Homo sapiens: one gene and its partner. The protein of the gene in region 1 purifies or fractionates together with the protein of each later gene. This does not show direct contact. Each region holds a gene or a part of one and is shown on either strand. Other genes may lie near its edges.

What was found. Proteins that work in one complex are often made in the same cells at the same time.
Region 2: the proteins of CLEC4F (region 1) and CSGALNACT2 purify together in Homo sapiens (affinity purification with mass spectrometry; one large-scale study listed by BioGRID and IntAct). This does not show direct contact.

Annotation. Positions count from the first base shown.
Region 1 is NC_000002.12:70,814,100-70,817,599, reverse strand, and holds part of CLEC4F (C-type lectin domain family 4 member F), read left to right. Parts: intron 1-111; exon of another isoform or gene 112-402; coding exon of another isoform or gene 403-487; coding exon 488-1,606; intron 1,607-3,500. UniProt on the Homo sapiens protein: Receptor with an affinity for galactose and fucose. Could be involved in endocytosis.
Region 2 is NC_000010.11:43,179,945-43,183,444, forward strand, and holds part of CSGALNACT2 (chondroitin sulfate N-acetylgalactosaminyltransferase 2), read left to right. Parts: intron 1-3,305; coding exon 3,306-3,500. UniProt on the Homo sapiens protein: Transfers 1,4-N-acetylgalactosamine (GalNAc) from UDP-GalNAc to the non-reducing end of glucuronic acid (GlcUA). Required for addition of the first GalNAc to the core tetrasaccharide linker and for elongation of chondroitin chains.

The sequences.
Region 1 (3,500 bases):
GTGAATCAAGAGGCTCTATGCTTGGTGTACAAATATAATGTAGGACTAACCACAGGCTTTATTCATACCTATTTTCTTTCCCATAATGACCCATCTGTGGTGAAATTCCAGTAAAATTAAACTTCAACAGCTCTAAATGATAAAATCAGTTACTTTCAAGTTGAGCAATTATAACGACAAAATAATCCAAGCCTTACCAGCATGACTCCTGGTGGCAGCTGGCTTACAGCAGGCAAGCATTTCAATCCTTCTGACCCCTTCATTTGTGTGTAACAGTGAATTAGATCTTTGTTTCTTGGCCCACATTCTCAGGTGGACCGTCCCCAGGGTCTGGGTGGCTGTGTGACCAGGAGGGTGCTTGGGGGAGCACTGAGGGCTGTGCAGTACCCATTTCCCTTGGAAATGTTAGAAACACTCTGGGTGGCCCATAAAATGCTACCCTACATAATGGGCCTCTTTGGCTGCCTTCTTCACTTCCTCCCTCCAGATCATCACCACTTTGGCAGGGAGGCAGAAATGCGAGAGCTTATCCAGACATTTAAAGGCCACATGGAGAATTCCAGTGCCTGGGTAGTAGAAATCCAGATGTTGAAGTGCAGAGTGGACAATGTCAATTCGCAGCTCCAGGTGCTCGGTGATCATCTGGGAAACACCAATGCTGACATCCAGATGGTAAAAGGAGTTCTAAAGGATGCCACTACATTGAGTTTGCAGACACAGATGTTAAGGAGTTCCCTGGAGGGAACCAATGCTGAGATCCAGAGGCTCAAGGAAGACCTTGAAAAGGCAGATGCTTTAACTTTCCAGACGCTGAATTTCTTAAAAAGCAGTTTAGAAAACACCAGCATTGAGCTCCACGTGCTAAGCAGAGGCTTAGAAAATGCAAACTCTGAAATTCAGATGTTGAATGCCAGTTTGGAAACGGCAAATACCCAGGCTCAGTTAGCCAATAGCAGTTTAAAGAACGCTAATGCTGAGATCTATGTTTTGAGAGGCCATCTAGATAGTGTCAATGACTTGAGGACCCAGAACCAGGTTTTAAGAAATAGTTTGGAAGGAGCCAATGCTGAGATCCAGGGACTAAAGGAAAATTTGCAGAACACAAATGCTTTAAACTCCCAGACCCAGGCCTTTATAAAAAGCAGTTTTGACAACACTAGTGCTGAGATCCAGTTCTTAAGAGGTCATTTGGAAAGAGCTGGTGATGAAATTCACGTGTTAAAAAGGGATTTGAAAATGGTCACAGCCCAGACCCAAAAAGCAAATGGCCGTCTGGACCAGACAGATACTCAGATTCAGGTATTCAAGTCAGAGATGGAAAATGTGAATACCTTAAATGCCCAGATTCAGGTCTTAAATGGTCATATGAAAAATGCCAGCAGAGAGATACAGACCCTAAAACAAGGAATGAAGAATGCTTCAGCCTTAACTTCCCAGACCCAGATGTTAGACAGCAATCTGCAGAAGGCCAGTGCCGAGATCCAGAGGTTAAGAGGGGATCTAGAGAACACCAAAGCTCTAACCATGGAAATCCAGCAGGAGCAGAGTCGCCTGAAGACCCTCCATGTGGTCATTACTTCACAGGAACAGCTACAAAGAACCCAAAGTAAGTGGGAGAGGGGAGTCGCGTTTGGGGAGGGCACAGTCTCTTGAGAGGGTAGAGTCTTCCATCTCATCAGCCTCTTTTTTACTGCAACATGCATCTCCTTGACCAAATCCAGGGAAATGGGCCCAAGGAAACTGGGCAGTTGTAGAGATGGTGTGAGGTGGGAAGTTCCTGCTCTCAAGTTGCTTATAACCTGGTCACGGTGACCAAATGAACACGGGAAACCAACTGTAAATGGTGCACGTGTGTGATAAGGACGGCATGGGCTAGTGGGCCACACAGCCTTATTTCTGACTTCCTGATACCCCAAATGGTATGACCTTGAGCCTGTTACTTACCTTCTCTGAGCTACACTTTTCTCATCTGCAAGGGGGAGACAATAATATTTGCATCACAGTGAGGATCCAATGAGTTCACACATGTAAGGCCTTTAACAAAGTACCTAGCATTCATGCCCTCACCCGATGCTTTATTGAGGCCCAGTGGTGTGCTGGGTAAAAAGGTGAATAAGGTGTGATAGGTACCCTTGAGAAGCTTACAGGCTAGTAGTACAGACTTGCATGAAAGACATACAGACAGGTATAAGGCTGATAGGTTAGAAGCAGGTACTGAGAACTGGGGTTGGGGGCAGAACAAAAAGAAGGGAAAAGGAATCTTCTAGGGGGAGGGAAGAGATCTGTGGGGAAAAGATCAAAAGATGCTTTGTGAGAAGATGGCTCTTGAACTTCATCCTGAAGGATGAGTAGGTGTTTGCCAAGCAAATAGGGTTTGCAGGCATGGAGACACAAAATCATGAGATTCTGGAAACTTCAGGCAGTTCTCTTTGACTGGCCTGTGGACAAGAGGGCAGCTGAGAGACAGAAGGGAGTGTTTGGGGCAGCCACTGAAGAAATGGGGGCTAACAAATGAGGGCTTGGTGGGCAGCAGTGACGTTCCACTTTACTGCTTTGCCCGGTTCCTGGTCTGGGGTCAGAGGCCCCACTTCTTCACACATCTCCTAGTGCCCCAATGTCCTTATTCCTCCCAGCTCTCACTGCTGCTTTAGCTGGGCCCAGTGTTTCTCCACTTTGGGGGCACACTGGAATCGCCCAAGGAGCTTTGAAAATACTGATGCCTGGGGACCCACCTCCAGAACTGTGATTTTTTTTTTTTTTTGGTGAGGGTGTCTGGCATCAGTATTCTTTTTTAAATGCCTAGGTGGATCTACTGGCATCTGGGCTGAGAACTATTAGCTTAATTTTTTTTCTTAAAGGACAAAGAACTAGATATCTTAGGCTTTGGGGCTGTACGATCTCTGTTACAACTACTCAACTCTGTTCGTAATTATAAAGCAAAAGAAAAAGACAGTAAACTAATGAGCATGGCTACGCTCATAATAAAATAAATTTTATTAAAAAGACACTGCTGACAGGCTAGAGTTTGCCAATGGTTGGTTTAGATGACTAGTTCTGGGCATCAGAACCCCCAGAGGGCTTGCTGAAGCAGATTGTTAAAACATAATTTTGGATTCAGTAGGGCTATGGTGGTCCTGAAAATTTGCATTTCTACCACGTTGTCAGGTGATGCTGATGGTCTGGGACCACACTTTTCGAACCCCTGATTTATACCCATCTCTTACTGGGACTTTCGCCATTGTGTTATCATTGGTGTTTCTGTCCTCATTAGGAGTACCTTCTTCTGGTTCAGCTTCCACCAGGTTGACGTTTTTCCAGTGCAAATCTGGACATATTACCATCCTTCTCAAAACCTTGCAGTGCTTCCCATTGCTCATAGGGAAAAAAAAATCCAAACTGTTTCACATGGGATGTACCATTTAGTGCTGGTGAACCTGTCCAAATTCATCACTCACCCATCCTTTATGTCCCAAGAATACCAAGTAGCTTGAATAGATCAG
Region 2 (3,500 bases), on another chromosome or scaffold:
GGAGCACTTTGTTCTTATGGACTTCCTCTCCCCCGGGGGAAAAAATCCATGAGGTTTTGCCCTGAGGATGGGGACAGTGACACACTTATTAAGCAGAGTGACCACCTCTGCCCTATGAGCAGGACACTGGGTAGGGGCAGGAGGACCCCCAGTATTCTCAGCTGGCCACACCTGGAAGTGGAGCCTCCACCCTGTTGCTGTGGGCTGGGTGAAAAAGAGCTGCACCTGTTTAGAACTTAGACTCTTTATTTGGAGCTTCTGTTCCCTTGTTTCCTTTCTTCCTGGTATTCCCATTATACATATGTTACATCTTTTGTAGTTGTCCCACCGTTCTTAGATATTTTGTTCATTTTATTTTCAGTCTTTTTTTTTCTTTGATTTTCTGTTTTGGAAATTTTTATTGTCATATCCTCAAGCTCAGAGATTGTTTCTTAAGCTAAGTCCGGTCTACTAATGAACCCATCTAAGGCATTCATTTATTTCGCAGTGTTTTTGATCTCTAGCATTTTTTTAAATTCCTTAGATCCATCTCACTGCTTATGTTCCGCATCTTGTGTGTTATCTGCTCTTTCCATTAGAGCCCTTAGAGTATTATACATAGTTGTTTTAAATTCCCAGCCTGATAATTCCAACATCCCTGCTGTATCTGAATCTGGATCTGGTACATGCTCTGTCTGTTCATACTGTGTTTTTCTTAACTTTTAGTATACCTTGTCATGTTTTCTGTTGAAAGTTGGACTTGATATACTGCGTAAAAGGAACTGCAATAAATAGGCCTTTGATGATGTGGTGGTGAAGTGTGGAGGGAGCGGAAGTGTTCTGTAGTCCCATAAGTAAGTCTCAATCTCTTAGTGATCCTGTATCCCAGACTCTGAATTTCACACATGCTTCTCAGTCTCCCCTCCTCTCCTGGACAGGATGACTAGAAGGGGCTCTAGTTGGGTAGATTTCTTCCTCCAAGTCAGTTAGGCACTGATAAAACCCCAGCAGGTTAGGCTCTGGTTAAATAACTTCTCCTAAGGACAGGCTTTGTTAATAATGACAACATGCTGTGGCATACTTTAAAATGATTACCTTTTCCCCTTCCCCACTGCTGGACGCATTAAGAGATTTTTCTCTGATCTTCACCACTGAGGACCTAATAGAGCTCCTAGAGGTAAAACTCACATGAGTATGGGGGTCCCAATATGACCAGGTCCCCCTGGAGTTTTTAACACTCAGACTTACCTCCCCTGAGCCTCCAGCAATTTGTCGATTACAGTTAGGGTTTTCCTACCTGGGTACTGGTCCCCACAGAGATTTCTGCTCCAGTAAGTTGGAATTCTTTGTATCTGCCTATCTGTCTCACCAGTTTTGAGGGCAGTGGTTTACCCTGTGACCTCACTTCTCTGTGAGAGACCTAAGAGGAGTTGTTGCTTTTTCAGTGTTCAGCTTTTGACTTGTTAGGATGGAGTGATGACTTCTAGCTCCAGGCATGCCAGACCAGAAACTGAGAATGCCCCATTTGTTTTAAGTATATGTACCATCTCTAATATTCTAAGAGCTTATATCTACAAGGAAGAAAAGCTGATATGTATCAGACATAGCATTTAGTAAAGCTCTGATTGTTTAATACTTTTCAGAGATCCCCAGATTATTGTCCATCCTGTTAATGTGAAATTAAGTGGGATAGAATTATTTGACAGGAGCCGGGCATGGTGGCTCGAACTTGTGGTCCCACTTACTAAGGAGGCTAAGGCAGAAGGATCACTTGAGCCCAGGAGATGGAGGCTGCAGTGAGCTATGATTGCACCTCTGCACTCCAGCCTGGGCAACAGAGTGAGAACACATCTCTGAAAAATAAAAATTATTTGACAGGCCAGGCACGGTGGCTCACGCCTGTAATCCCAGCACTTTGGGAGGCCGAAGTGAGTGGATCATCTGAGGTCAGGAGTTCAAGCTTACGAAGATGACGGGATTAAGAGATTAAAGTAAAGACAGGCAATCACAAGGGTATTGATTGGGGAAGTGATAAATGTCCATGAAATCTTCACAATTTATGTTCAGAGATTGCAGTAAAGACAGGAGTAAGAAATTATAAAAGTATTAATTTGGGGAACTAATAAATGTCCATGAAATCTTCACAATTTATGTTCTTCTGCCATGGCTTCAGCCAGTCCCTCCATTCGGGGTCCCTGACTTCCTGCAGCAGCCCACTCCAGTTAGCCTTCTGCCCCATCACTCTATCAGAATTGTTCTGGGGAAGTTTATAAGTAACATTTATGCTGCCAGGTCCAGTCAGTTCTTCTTAAATTCTTCACTGAATAGCACACACTTGACAACTTCTTCCTCAAGACACTTTCTTCACGTGGCTACTACAATGGCACCTTTTCCAGAATTTTCTCCCTCACCTGGGGCCACTTCTCAATCTCATTTCCTGACTTAACTTTCTTTACCTCTATTTAACCTCTAGAAATTGGCATTTCTTAGTGTTTAGACCTAGGCCCTGTTTTCCTTCCAAATTCCTTCAGTAATTTCATTCATTCCTGTAGCTTTAAATAATCTATGGACCCATTCTCAAATTTATATCTCCAGCTTGGCCCTTTCTTCTTTTTCCACTCTGGGGAGTTTTTCTATAGCCCAGAAAAGCGTGTGTCTCAAAGGACAGAAAATGTGGCTGGTCGCAGTGGCTAATGCCTGCAATCCAGCACTTTGGGAAGCCAAGTGGGCGGAACACTTGAACCCAAAGTTCGAGACCAGCCTGGGCAACATGGTGATACCCCATCTCCACCAAAAAAAAAAAAAAAGCTGAGTATGGTGACATGCGCCTGTGGTCCCAGCTACTCGGGGCTGAGATGGGAGGATCGCCTGAGCCACGGAGGTCGATGCTGCAGTGAGCCATGATCACACCACTGCACTCCAGCCTGGGTGACAGAGTGAGACCCTGTCTCAAAAAAAAAAACAAAAAAAAAAAGAAAACATAAAAAGTTAATGGTGGTGAGATTATAGGTGACTTGTATTTTCTTCTCCTTTATTTGACTTTTTGTAGATTTTCTACAGGACTTTGAAATTTACAAAGTGTTCTTAAATATTTAACCCCATTTTGATACTGTCAACAACCAACCTTGAGCTCCTTGAGTCCAAGTGTCAGCTCAAAACTGGACTTCCGGTGACTGGGAGTCACTCCTCCATGCCAGGTGTCTCGTGCTACCTTTTTGCTGAACCATCCCATCCCTTTTGAAGCAGAACATTTAAAATTTTATATATATCCCTGTGCTCTGGCTAATAATAGGCAGTTATTTATAGTGTCAATTTTGATCTTACAGGTGGATTTGACATGGAAGTGAAAGGTTGGGGTGGAGAAGATGTTCATCTTTATCGAAAATACTTACATGGTGACCTCATTGTGATTCGGACTCCGGTTCCTGGTCTTTTCCACCTCTGGCATGAAAAGCGCTGTGCTGATGAGCTGACCCCCGAGCAGTACCGCATGTGCATCCAGTCTAAAGCCATGAATGAGG